2 separate regions of the Homo sapiens genome follow, and region 2 is reported to be linked to region 1. Evidence: microRNA targets listed by miRTarBase, many of them from high-throughput screens and not tested one by one. Region 1 holds a microRNA gene; the other region holds the end of a gene's coding sequence. Distances are from middle to middle.
Evidence for each region. Region 1 holds the annotated microRNA hsa-miR-604 (AGGCUGCGGAAUUCAGGAC, at 1,156-1,174, shown strand). A microRNA usually pairs through its seed, bases 2 to 8, with sites in the 3' UTR of a target mRNA and lowers its output. Matches are read on the target gene's strand: a 7mer-m8 pairs with bases 2 to 8, a 7mer-A1 pairs with bases 2 to 7 and ends in A, and an 8mer does both.

Region 2: miRTarBase lists HNRNPF as a target of hsa-miR-604. Seed matches in the 3' UTR shown: 7mer-A1 at 3,037-3,043.

What each region holds. Positions count from the first base shown.
Region 1 is chr10:29,542,781-29,546,192 of GRCh38, reverse strand. It overlaps MIR604 (microRNA 604), which reads left to right and starts at 1,096; the gene lies at 1,096-1,189. All of the region lies in intron 6 of SVIL (supervillin), which reads left to right.
Region 2 is chr10:43,383,553-43,386,964 of GRCh38, forward strand. HNRNPF (heterogeneous nuclear ribonucleoprotein F) reads right to left here. Exons shown (of 4, transcript NM_001098204.2): 4 at 2,066-3,412. The coding sequence ends at 3,085. Among named protein-coding and RNA genes, the nearest start is that of FXYD4, 14 kb to the left of the region's middle. RefSeq lists enhancers at 1,058-1,207, 1,228-1,307, 1,358-1,437, 3,175-3,412.

The DNA.
Region 1 (3,412 bases):
AATAAAATTAAAAGGGATTTAGGTCCTATGGATTATTCAGATTTTTAAACACCTGAGCTTGAGCTTCTACTACTAGAAATTCCGAATCCAAAGCTCTTGTTGAATTTGTTACTTTATGCATCTCACGTATCTATATAAAGAAAATGTGCTGTATTTTTTACTTTTATGAGTGGAGAAACTCACTGTCTTCAGTCCTGCTGTTGCCTTTGCTGAGCATCCGGCCATCACTCTCTGTTCTCAGGGAACTATGTGACTGGCAAAGGGAATGAAATGAAAGGTAGACCTCATTTTCTTTCTTTCTTTTTTCTTTTTCTTTTTTTTTTTTTTTTTTTTTTTTTTGAGACAGAGTCTCACTCTGACTCCAAGCTGGAGTGCAGTGGTGCAATCTTGGCTCACTGCAACCTCCACCTCCTGGGTTCAAGCGATTCTCCTGCCTCAGCCTCCCAAGTAGCTGGGACTACAGGCATGCGCCACCACACCCAACTAATTTTTGTATTTTTAGTAGAGACGGAGTTTCACCATGTTGGCCAGGATGGTCTTGATCCCTTGACCTCATGATACGCCCACCTCGGCGTCCTAAAATGCTGGGATTACAGGCGTGAGCCACCACGCCCGGCTGGTAGACCTCATTTTCTAGTGGTGATCCACTCTAGAAAACCCTCGTTTATTAGTTTTGTTTGTCATTACTGTACTGCAGCCCCTCACCACTCTTTTCTCTTTAGCAAATTGTGTCCTTAGTAGTGAGAACATGATATGGAGGTTTCATGCAGAGCTGAGGCTGACATTGGACCCCTGGGAGAGTTGCCATTGGTGGATGATGGTTTGGGCAGGGCTCCCCATGGATGCCAGAGAGCCGCCGATCGGCTCAGGAAATAGACCAGGGCACCCTCTGGAATGCAGCTTCTGTAACAACTTGACACGGTGCAGCCTCAGCCACTAAGAAAGGAAGGGGCTTGTGCTGGGCACTTGGAGTTTATTTCTGATTGCATTTGCTCATCTCCTGATGAGAGATTTTAGTCTAAAAACCGTCTCCAGAGCCTCAAGCTCTCTTGGCTCAGTGGTCTGTTTCCATGCACTGAGAGAGGTGTCTGCAGGAGAGCATCGTGCTTGACCTTCCACGCTCTCGTGTCCACTAGCAGGCAGGTTTTCTGACACAGGCTGCGGAATTCAGGACAGTGCATCATGGAGAAACATACATCTTGGGGGCCATTCTAAAGAACAGACATCTGGGTCCTCCTCACAGCTTATTCTATTACTGGAATGGAATTGGCTTCACCTTTCAGTCCCTGTACCCCCAAACACCTGTGCTCCCTGCCATACTCTAGAATCCCAACTGTTAAAATAGATGGGTAAGTCATTCCCTCTTTTTTTTCATTTCATCCTGTTCTTATTGTCAAGTGACAATTCTTATTCTTTTTTTTTTTTTTTTTTTTTTTTTAGAAAAGGTCTCACTCTGTTGCCCAGGCTGGAGTGCAGCAGTAGCACAATCTCACTGCAGCCTTGACTTCCTGGGCTCGAGCGTTCCTCCTGCCTCAGCCTTCTGAGTAGTTGGGACTTAACAGATGCACGCCACTATGCCTGGCTAATTTTTGAATTTTTTGGAAGAGATGGGGTTTCACAATGTTGCCCAGGCTGGTCTGGAACTCCTGGTGTTAAGCGATCCACCCGTCTTGGCCTCCCAAAGTGCTGGGACTACACGTGTGAGCCACCGGGCCTGGCAGACTATTCCTATTCATTGGACTAAATGTAAATATATCTCCCCAAACCCTAGCTACTATGTACACTAGCTAAAAACTCAAAGGTGTGTGAGATTTTAAATGCAAAATTTTTCCTTGAGCCTGTGTCCTTGCAGATTTTGTACCTGTACCTATCTGCAGAACGGTCATTAGCAGTTTTTCCAAACAAGCGACTTTTAGCAAATTAACCGTTAATTTTAATGAGATTCAAAAGTTAATAGCCATTCTTAACGTTTTATAATTAGAAGCTGTTATATAATTAGAGCTGGACACCCACATGGAGAAACTAATTTGACTGTGCTGCATTTGACTTCACTTTGGTAACAGGAAGCACTTTTTAGTCTGTAGACCCTTGGGAGTTGTAGGGAGTTAAAGCTGATCATTATATACTATTATATACTTAGGGATACAACCCAAGGGCAACCCCTGGCCTTTATGAAAACCTGGAGTGAGTTATTATTTCCTGGTAATACAATTCTCTGCCAGCCAGTTGCTGCATCAAAACAGTTCTGATACACACACCTAAAGTCACCACTTCCTCATTCTGGTCCCCAATAACCCTATAAGCCTCTCCCCTTGTAGGTGACCTCTGCCCTGTGAAGGGTTGGCTCACCCCAAGATTCCATAAAATAAGTTGTCTGTTTGTTTATGAGAACAAGGCTTTTTAAGTACCATATGTAATACATGCATATAAATGCATGTATTTAGATCAGATTTCTGGAGGAGGGATTGTAAGTTTGATGACTAAAGGAGGCAGGGGAGAGGGGAGAGATGGAGGAGGAAGAGAGGTAAGAAGGAGGGGGAGAGAGTGCGAGAGAACAGGATCATGTAGGCAAGAGAGCACGTGTACCCGGAACAATGGTTAGAAACTAACAAGGTGAAATTTAATGAAGTCTTGAATTTAGATGGAAAAAAAATCAGTGCACAAGTTCAAGATTGTGGAAACCTGATTTAACAGCAGTTCGTGGGAAACAGACCTAAGGGTTTTAGTTGACAGCAAGTTCTTTATATGACTGCCAAAGTGATTAGTCCAATCTTGGGGGACATTAATGAAAGTGAGTTGCCAATAGCATAGGTAGGCAATGGTCCCCCTGCGTCCTGCAGTGGTCAGATTACATCTGGATATCTCTTTCTAATAGGGCCACTGACAAATGTGTCCAGAGAAGAGTCCACCTTCCCATCTGCCCTGCTTTCTTGACCTTTCCAGGTTGTTTTGTTGTGTTTTGGTAACTTCTCTCTCTCTTAACCCATGTATGCCCGAGGTTGCAATTTTTTGAATTTTTGCAATCAGACCTTGGTGCTGTCCTTGAGCAGTAGAATATAAATAACTCCCACTTGCTTAGCATTCCAATAATGGAACACTAGGCATAAATGGGCTAATAGAAACTGGGACCATTTTTGGAGTCACTTCCACTTTCTGTGGTGTTTAGACTCTCGCACCAGTCTGCTCTCATTATCATATCGTGAGTTTCCCAGAGACAGAGCTGGAGCTTGGCTCAGCTTGGCAAACAGAGCCCTGATGTTATTAGTTTGGCTTCTGGGTTGCTGATGATTGTACTGGAAGGGAAAAGAGGAGAAACAGGTCATGAGCCAAATGAGGAGTCCCACAGATGCCACTTCACAGGCACCCTATGTCATAGGAAGGATATTCAAATGTCCAGCACCTAACGGGTACA
Region 2 (3,412 bases), 14 Mb from region 1:
CCAGCTGCAGACACCCAGAAGTCTGGTTATTCAAGACACTATGTGAGACTAAAGAAACACAGACTTTTCCCCCCTCGGTTCTCTGAAACTGCCCCTCCCTTAGTCTCTAGCTGTGTAAAAACTCCCCATGCCTGGCATGGTGGCTTATGCCTATAATCCCAGCACTTTGGAAGGCCGAGGCTGTAGTGTACTATGTCGATTGGGTATCTGCAGCAAGTTCGGCCTCGCTATGACCTCCCAGGAGTGGAGGACCACCACGTTGCCTAAGGAGGGGTGAACTGGCCCAGGTTGAAAACGGAGGTCAAAACTTCCATGCTGAGGCTGTGCGCGGTGGCTCACGCTTATAACCCCAGCACTTTGAGACTCTCTCAAAGTCACTGCACTCCAGCCTGGGTGATATAGGGAGACCCCCATCTCTAAAAAAACAAAACAAACAAAAAAACTCCACGCTGCTTCTTTTTGTTAAGGCAGATTTCTCACCTTGGCCAAATCAAATAAACCTTTATCTCCAAGCACCTTTGTCTTGGTGTTTGGCATCAGCTACACATCAGGTACGCAAGCCTGAATTTGGGGTTCTACAACATAACAAGATGCAGTATCTTGACTTTTACCTTGCAGGGAATGCCCTAGTCATGCCCAAGGCCACAGGTTGAAAAACATTTCCTGTAGTGTCAGTAAATATTTTAGGTTTTGTGGGCCATGTGGTCTCTGATACAACTACCCATCTCTCTGCCTGCTGTAGTACCTGGGCAGCCATGGACAGTATTAACAAATGGGCACGGCTGTGTGTAGCAACAAATGGGCATGGCTGGGTGCCATGGTGCATGCCTGAAATCTTAGAACTTTGGGAGGCTGAAGAATACAGATCACTTGAGCTGAGGAGTTCAAGACCAGTCTGGGCAACATAGTGAGACCCCATCTCTACAAAAAATACAGAAATCAGCCGGGCATAGCGGTGTGCGCCTCCAGTCCCAGCTACTTGAGAGGCTGAGGTGGGAGGATAACTTGAGCACGGGAGGCTGACACTGCAGTGAGCCAATATCATGCCACTAGACTCCAGCCTGGGCATCAGAGAGAGACTTGTCCCTCCCCAACAAAAGTTAACAATCCTGGAGCAAGGGGATGTTTTGCTGTCCATGTTATGTTGTTACCTTGGGATGTCAGGTCATCTAACACATTCCCTTTCCCATCCCCTGGAGCCCTTTCCACCCATGCATCCTAAATCTAGCATAGACTTCCAGGGTTGTGAAGGTACTCTTTGAATCTCCACCACTCTACGAAATCTGAGGTCTCATCTTCATGGCATTCCAGCCCCATTTCCAGCGGAAACTCCACCTGTTTCTGTGGGTCTCCCTCACCTACAGGCCTCTCCTTCCCCATGCAGTGCTGACACTTGAAGCATGGTAGGCCCATGGGTGGGCAGAGATCCCAGATCAGGGTTACAGCAAGGACAGTTCTCCCTAGGTTTCCCCCATGCCAGTCTTCCGAGTGCCTCTTTCTGCGTCCCTGTACCCTGCCATTCCTGGTGATGCTGCTGCCCTCACATCAGGCCATCCAAGCATGCAGAACATAAGCATGCAGAACACTGGAACGAAGGGCTGTACCTAAGGTGAGCCTCTGAAGCCCAATGAGGCTAGAAAAGGCTGAAGACTTCACAGACCTAATTTTTAATGCAGCTCTCAGGGGTTTTACCAAGAGCATTTATTTACTCTTTAAGATACTAATGAAGACCCTTAATATTGGTAAAATCATAACATATAGGTTACATTATACAGCTAGTGAAGTGGGAAAATAAAGTTGAAGAATTCCCAATGGTAGATAGCATTTTTGCACAGAATGGTTTTAAATAAACTCCACATTTTAAAGTCCTGATGGTTTGTATTTAGCATAAGGTTTAAAATGATAGTAATACTGTATGCTATATATAGAGCTGCCTGAATTTCAACATTGCTGTTGCCAAGGTAGATAGCAATTTGAAAATGGGTCTCAAGCTTGATAATGTGTATCCTGTCATAACCTAATTAACAAATGCGCCCTACAGAAATCAGGAGCGTGACCAAAAAAAAAAGTTTAAATCAGCATTTTATAAAAACTAGAAACAAAATAATTGCTTTCACAATGTAGTACTTGAAACTAAAGTTCTCCAGCTATCAACAGATGTGACTCCAGCATCAAGGGCCTAGCAGGAAAATTCTGAATGGTTTACAACAGTGCACATAAGTTGCAGGTGGCTGGGGCCGTGTGTCTATTTGATGCTTCCCAGAATGTGTGCTGCTAGTCACCATTTCCACCATTCACATATTTAACATTTTTATTAGACTTTTATTTAGCCTCATCATAAGAATATAAGGGAGATCATAGATTTGATGTATGAAATTTTTAAATTCACACTAAAATACATTACGATTAAAATGAATTATCTTCAACCACCCGTTTTGCTATCTTTTGCTGAGTAATCTGTGCCAGTCATTGTGAAAAAGTCTTTATTTTAAGAAAAAAATTTAGTTAACAAAAAATTTAACAAGTTTCACTTAGCAAAATACACCCAAAAGGAAATCACAGTACAAAGAAAGTTTTAAGTCAAGGCCTCACCAATTCCTACAGTATTAGTATTGTGTCTCAATTCTCAAAACTAACTTTTAAAAAGCTTAAACTTAACCTAAAGGATTTTAAATGAAAATATAAACTAGAATGAACAAACATGAGAAATATTTCTTTGAATCAGGGAGCTAGCACCTTTGAGTTTTCCAAAAAAGCACGTCTCCCCAGTGTGTTCACTGTGATGTGGTGTAAAAGATCCACATTTAACATACTTAAACTACTTAAACTTAGATAACATCACTCTGAAGTATACTACCAAAATGTTAATTGAGAAAAGCTGAAAATAGTTTTAGTTTACTCATTATCACATGCTAGAAGAAAATTTTGCATGAGAAAACACTGAAGAGGTAATTTTTTAATCCAGATTTTTCACAAACTCATGGTGCAAAATGGGTCCCCCAGCTTCCTCTATTATAACTGCTCTTAATTGCTTGTTGGCTGCCTGTGAAAATGATTGAAGTAACTCAAATGTTCCTAACAAAACTAGTCATAGCCACCCATGCTGTTCTGCCCACTGTAGCCGGCCCCGTAACAGCCACTCACTGACTGGCTCTCCAGGCCACTGTAAGTGGCCTGGGCAGCAGACACCCCCATGCCTTGCATCACCTGGCTGCTATACGCCCCATTGCTGGCCCCTGTTGTTGAATTCAAGAAGAGTTCTATATATCTGTGCTGCATATTGGCCCTGTCTTTGGACATAGCTGCCACAGCTTCTTCATGAGTAGCAAACTCAACATCTGCTTCACCCGTCACTCTTCCATCTGGGCCAATCTCAATATGGACTCTCACAGGGTTGAGAGGAGAGAAGAAG